Linked DNA regions of Homo sapiens. The protein of the gene in region 1 purifies or fractionates together with the protein of each later gene. This does not show direct contact. Each region holds a gene or a part of one and is shown on either strand. Other genes may lie near its edges.

What was found. The genes of interacting proteins can lie anywhere in the genome.
Region 2: the proteins of FNBP4 (region 1) and LURAP1 purify together in Homo sapiens (affinity purification with mass spectrometry; one large-scale study listed by BioGRID and IntAct). This does not show direct contact.

The regions. Positions count from the first base shown.
Region 1 is NC_000011.10:47,760,842-47,764,341, forward strand, and holds part of FNBP4 (formin-binding protein 4), read right to left. Parts: intron 1-3,500.
Region 2 is NC_000001.11:46,209,834-46,213,333, reverse strand, and holds part of LURAP1 (leucine rich adaptor protein 1), read right to left. Parts: intron 1-3,500. UniProt on the Homo sapiens protein: Acts as an activator of the canonical NF-kappa-B pathway and drive the production of pro-inflammatory cytokines. Promotes the antigen (Ag)-presenting and priming function of dendritic cells via the canonical NF-kappa-B pathway.

The sequences.
Region 1 (3,500 bases):
AGCCACAGTGACCGCCTAGATTCCATATATCTTAAGTGAAATTTGGCAACAGGTACCAAGAGCTACAAAACTCAAGTTTATTTTATATAGTTTCATCTTTGAGACTATAATACCAAGACATAACTCCAAAAAAACTTTGCTCAAAGCTTCTGGTGGCTTGCTTGAAACAACTAAAATCTGTAAACACTCAAATGCTCTCAAACAGTGGACTGGCAAAGCAAATCATAGGACATACCTGATTTATTACCATTTTGTGATAAATCAGACTATTATAGAATCACATGAAATATTACTAAAGGGATTAAAAGTAATGCTAAAGGAATAAAAGCAAGTCATAAAATACATACAAAATTTAATTAAATCTCAGAAAATACAGTGTATATACTGTTAACAGGAATGAAGTTAGAGTAACACTGAAAATAAACGTTCACATTATCAGGTAAAATTGCTTTATCTTAGAAAAATCTCAGAGGCTGGGCATGGTCGCTCACCGCTCTAATCCCAGCACTTTGGGAGGCTGAGACGAGTGGATTACAAGGTCAGGAGTTCAAGACCAGCCTGGCCAAGATGCTGAAACCCTGTCTCTACTAAAAATATAAAATTAGCTGGGGATGGTGGCATGAGCCAGTAATCCCAGCTACTAGGGAGGCTGCAGCAGGAGAATCACTTTAACTCAGGCGACGGAGGTTGCAGTGAGCCAAGATCACACCACTGCACTCCAGCCTGGGCGACAGAACAAGACTCCATCTCAAAGCAAAAAAAAAAAGAGAAAAATCTTAGAAACAAAATCAACAGGATGGTCACGGTGGCTCACATCTATAATCCTAGCATTTTGGGAGGCCAAGGAAGGAGGATCACTTGAGCCTCCTTGAGAACAGCCTGGGCAATAAAGTGAGACCATGTCTACAGAAAGAAAAAAAATTTTATTAAAAACAACAACAAAGCTGGCCAGGTGTCACTGACCTATAAGCAGGTACTAAAGAACTCCAAGAATTTAATTTCTTTTTTTTTTTTGAGACAGAGTTTCGCTCTTGTTGCCCAGGCTGGAGTGCAATGGCGTGATCTTGGCTCACCGCAACCTCTGCCTCCTGGGTTCAAGCGATTTTCCTGCCTCAGCCTCCTAAGTAGCTGGAATTACAGGCATGCGCCACCATGCCCAGCTAGTTTTGTATTTTTAGTAGAGACGGGGTTTCTCCGTGCTGGTCAGGCTGGTCTCGAACTCCAGACCTCAGATGATCCGCCAGCTTCAGCCTCCCAAAGTGCTGGGATTAGAGGCGTGAGGCACAGCGTCTGGCTGTTTTTTTTTTTTGAGATGGAGTCTTACTCTGTCACCCAGGCTGGAGTGCAATGGTGTGGTCTAGCTCATTGCAACCTCCGCCTCCCGGGTTCAAGCGATTCTCCCACCTCAGCCTCACGAGTAGCTGGGACTACAGGTGCGTGCCACCATACCCAGCTAATTGTATTTTTAGTAGCGATGGGGTTTCACTATGTTGGCCAGGATGGTCTTGAACTCCCGACCTTGTCATCCGCCCGCCTTGGCCTCCCAAAGTGCTGGAATTACACGCGTGAACCACCGTGCCCCGCCTATTTTTTTAAATTATTTTTGACACAGGGTCTCATTCTGTCACCTAGACTGGGTTGCAGTGGCATGATCATATATAGCTGACTGCAGCCTTGAACTCCTGGGCTCAAGCGATCCTCCTGCCTCAGTCTCCCAAGTAGCTAGGCCCACAGGTGCTCATCAGCACGTCTAGCTAATTTTAAACTTTTTTGTAGAGGTGGGGGTCTCGGCCAAGTGTGATGGCTCATGCGTTTAATCCCAGCACTTTGGGAGGCTGAGGCAGGTGGATTACTTGAAGTCAGGAGTTCCAGACCAGCCTGGCCAACATGGTGAACCGTCTCTACTGAAAATACAAAAATTAGCTGGGCATGGTGGCGTGGGCCCGTAATCCCAGCTACTTGGAAGGCTGAGGAAGGAGAATCGCCGGAGCCCAGGACACAGAGACTGCAGTGAGCCAAGATCACGCCACTGCACTCCAGCCTGGGCAACAGAGACTCTGATTCCAAAAAAAAAAAAAAAAAAAAAGAGTCTCTCTGCTGCCTAGGCTGCTCTTGAACTCTAGGATTCAAGTGATCCTCCCACCTCAGCCTCCCAAAGCACTAGGATTACAGGCATGAGCCACCCATTTTCAGGGGCGTTAAAAACTAAGCTCCTGGGCTGGGCACAGTGGCTCATGCCTGTAATCCCAGCACTTTGGGAGGCCAAGGCAGGAAGATCACTTAAACCCTAGAGTTGTAAGAACAAGTCCTTGACTACTGTTAAGATGAAGATGTGTTGCAGGCTGGGCGTGGTGGCTCAGACCTGTGATCACCGCACTTTGGGAGTCCAAGGCGGGTGGATCACTTGAAGTCAGGAGTTCAAGACCAGTCTGGCCAACATGGCAAAACCCCGTCTCTACTAAAAATACAAAAATTAGCCGGTAATCCCAGCTGCTCAGGAGGGTGAGGTAGGAGAAATCACTTCAACCCGGGAGGCAGAGGTTGCAGTGAGCCAAGATCACACCACTGCACTTGAACTCAAAAAAAAAAAAAAAAAAAGATTTGTTGCTACTTAAAGCCTGAGAAAGCATGGTCATTCTTCAGAGCCATAGTGTTTTGTTTTGTTTTGTTTTGTTTTGAGACGGAGTCTTGCTCTGTCGCCCAGGCTGGAGTGCAGTGGCGTGATCTCGGCTCACTGCAAGCTCCGCCTCCCGGGTTCACGCCATTCTCCTGCCTCAGCCTCCCGAGTAGCTGGGACTACAGGCGCCCGCCACCACGCCCAGCTAATTTTCTGTATTTTTAATAGAGATGGGGTTTCACCGTGTTAGCCAGGATGGTCTCGATCTCCTGACGTCATTATCCACCTGCCTCGGCCTCCCAAAATGCTGGGATTACAAGCGTGAGCCACTGTGCCTGGCCCAGAGCCATAGTTTTTAGCAGTCTTTTTTTGAGAAAGGTGTTGACCCCTCAAACCTCAACATTCTTACTTACCTTTGAGGGATGGTGCTACACAATTTGTATATCAGCTACCTATATCAGGCAGTAAATTATTTCTTAGGTATATACCTCTTATGGCTTGAATGTGCCCCTAAAAAGGATGTTTTGGAAATTAAATCCCCAGTGCAACAGTGTTGGGAGGTAGGGGCCTAATGGAAGATGTTGACATCACGAGAGGACATTCAAACCACAGGAGTAATCAAGGAAGTTTCTCCTAGAAACATTTAAATTTATATTTTATTTTATGTATTTATTTGAGACAGGTTCTTACGGTCGCCCAGGCTGGAGTGCAGTGGCAAAACCTCAGTTCACTGCAACCTCCACCTCCTGAGTAGCTGCGATTATAGGTGTGCGCCACCATGCCCAGCTAATTTTTATGTTTTTAGTAGAGATGGGGTTTCACCATGTTGGCCAGGCTGGTCTCGAACTCCTGAACTCAGGTGATCCGCCTGCCTCAGACTACC
Region 2 (3,500 bases), on another chromosome or scaffold:
CCAGCACAATTACTGAATATCAATCCCTACTTGATCTGCTATGCCAATATCAAGTGCCATATATCATATTTGTGTATATGCTGTGTTATAATCTTATGAAATCACTATGGTATATGCTGTTCATCGAAACATCGTATGTTTTGGTCGTATGATGACTGAAACATCATATAAATATTTGTGTATGTGTACACACTTATATACACATAAATGTTTATATATATGTGCATATATACACACATGATAAATGTTTATTTGACATATGTAGTCTATCATTGATCAAAATGTTTATATGGTAATCCCAGCACTTTGGGAAGCTGAGGAGGACAGATCACTAGAGGTCAGGAGATCGAGACCATCCTGGCTAACACGGTGAAACCCCGTCTCTACTAAAAATTACAAAAAAAATTTTTGCCAGGTGTGGTGGTGGACACCTGTAGTCCCAGCTACTCAGGAGGCTGAGGCAAGAGAATGGTGTGAACTCGGGAGGTGGAGCTTGCAGTGAGCTGGGATCATGCCACTGCACTCCAGCCTGGGCGACAGAGCGAGACTCTGTCTCAAAAAAATAAAATAAAATAAAATAAAATAAAAAATTAGCCAAGCATGGTGGCTCTTGCCTGTAATCCCAGCTACTCGGGAGGCTCAGGCAGGAGAATCACTTGAACCCGGGAGGCAGAGGTTACAGTGAGCTGAGATGGTGCCACTGTACTATAGCTTGGGTGACAGAGCGAGACTCTGATTCAAAAAAAAAAATTTGGCCGGGTGCAGTGGCTCACGCCTGTAATCCCAGCACTTTGGGAGGCCAAGGCGGGCGGATCACGAGGTCAGGAGATCAAGACCATCCTGGCTAACACGGTGAAACCCCGTCTCTGTTAAAAATACAAAAAAATTCGCTGGGCGTGGCAGTGTACGCCTGTAGTCCCAGCTGCTGGGGAGGCTGAGGCAGGAGAATGGCATGAACCCGGGAGGCGGAGCTTGCAGTGAGCTGAGATCGCGCCACTGCACTCCAGCCTGGATGACATAGCAAGACTCCGTCTCAAAAAAAAAAAAAAAAATTTACATGGTTGTTTATGTTATACATGGTCTGACATTGACCAAAACGTCATTATGTGTGTATGTGTATTTACATATACAGGTCAGATCCCGCAGGTCACACAAACACAGTAAATGTTTTTTGTATTTGAAAAATGTTTATTGAATTATTCAGGAAATAACTGCTTTATTCACATCTATGATAAACCAGAGTAAGACCATGCATTAATATTTGTACATTGAGGCCAGGTGTGGTAGCTCACTCCTGTAATCCCGGCACTTTGGGAGGTCGAGGTGGGAAGATCACCTGAGATCAGGAATTTGAGACCAGCCTGGCCAACATGGTGAAACCCCGTCTCTAATAAAAATACAAAAATTGGCCAGGCGTTGTGGCGCACGCCTGTAAGCCCAGCTACTCAGGAGGCTGAGGCAGGAGAATCACTTGAACCGAGGCAGAGGTTGTAGTGAGCCGAGATCACACCACTGCACTCCAGCTTGGGCAACAGAGCAAGACTCCGTCTCAAAAAAATATATATATATATTTGTACATTGAGAAAATTAGACACTGGAATTAAATGGACCTAGATTTGAGTTCCAGTTTTGCCATTAATGAGCCATATGAAATTAAAATTGATTTCTTTAAACCTTCATTTCTTTATTATAATATGAGGTACTATCTAAAGGTTTGTCATGAGACATCGAAGGAACATATTAACATGCATAGCATACCATCTGACAAGTATAATACTGTAAATCAATAAATGGTAGGCTATTTGGCTCTACATATTACTATGGTCGACTTATTTACTAGTTGTGATATTACTGTGTGTGTGTGTGTGTGTGTGTGTGTGTGTGTGTGTGTGTGCAGGTTTTCATCCAGTTTTTGGCTCATAAGCCCCATAGCCATTGTTACAGTGTTTGTTATAATGCTGGGGCACTCAGAAATAGGCTTCAGGAAACAGTCTCTTTCTGACCTTCTCCTGCTCTCCTCTCACCTTCCCAGAGTAGAACTCTAATCTGATTGTGGGTCATAAGACCCTCATTCCAGAGAAGGTCCTGACTCATACCCTGGAGGAAGGAATGCCGCAGAGAGAGGCCAATAAGAATCTAAACAGACAGGCTTTGCTGGGTTTTGATCAGACCCTTTTTGTCCAATAACATTTTGATATGGTTGTCCATGTTTCAATCGTGGACAACCAATAAAGTCTCTTTAAAAGGCCCAAAGGACCAGGCACAGTGGCTTAAGCCTGTAATCCCAACACTCTAGGGGACTGAGGTGGGAGGATCGCTTGATCCCAGGAGTTCAAGACCAGCCTGGGCAACACAGGGAAACCCTGTCTCTACCAAAAAAAAAAAAAAAAAATTAGGTGAGTGTGGTATTGCACACCTGTAGTGCCAGCTACTTAGGAGGCTGAACTGGGAGGATTGATTGAGCCAGAGAAGTACAGGCTGCAGTGAGCTGTGATTGAGCCACTGTACTCCAACCTGGGCAACAGAACCAGACCTTGTCTCAAAAAATAAAAAAAGGTCCCCACAACAGGATTCAGAGAGCGTCCAAGTAGCTGAACAGATGGAGGGTGGTGCACCCAGGGAGAGCACAGAAGTTCCGCACCCCTTCCCGTATGCCTTGCCCCATGCATCTCTTCATCTATATCCTTTGTAATATCCTTATAATAAACCAGTAAATGTGTTTCCCTGAGTTCTGTGAGCCACACCAGCAAACCAATCAAACCCAAGGAGGGGGTCATAGGAACCCCAATTTGAAGCTGGTTGGTCAGAAGGTCAGGAGGCCCAGATTTACGACTAGTGTCTGAAGAGGGGGACAGTCTTGGGGACTGAGCCCTCAACCTGTGGGATGTGACACTGTCTCCAGGTAGACAGAGTTGAAATTAAATTAGTAGACACCCAGCTGGTATCTGCTGCAGAACTGATTGCTTGCTTGCTGGTGGGAAGAAATCCTCATATATTTTGGGGTCTTCTGTATTAATGATTATTGTTGTGTTGCATTAAGTGAAAAAATTAAAAAAACACACACACACAGTTTAGGGTTTTCTAAACACTATGGCAAAAGCATAGAAAAAAATTTTATACCTGAAATTATTTGTGTTTTTGGAAGAATATCACAACTCTAATTCAATTGAACAAATGACTATTGGGTACATGGATTTGCTAATAATTACAAAGATAATGGAGAAATTGTTCCTGCTTAATAGAAGCTTGCAGTCTCAATAAGGGGAGATGAACATAAATAACTGCAATATCAGACTGTACAGACTATTAACTTGATAAAGGAGATTATCTTCAATTATTTCATCCTGGAGACAAATATATGAACAGTGAAGACAACTGTCCTAGTCCATGACCAAACTAAATACATTAAACAAAGCTCCTCATACTAAAAACACTTGTCCTGCTGTTTTCCCCTCCCTCCTTTCCTTCCTTTCTGCCTCCCTCCATCCCTCCCTTCCTTC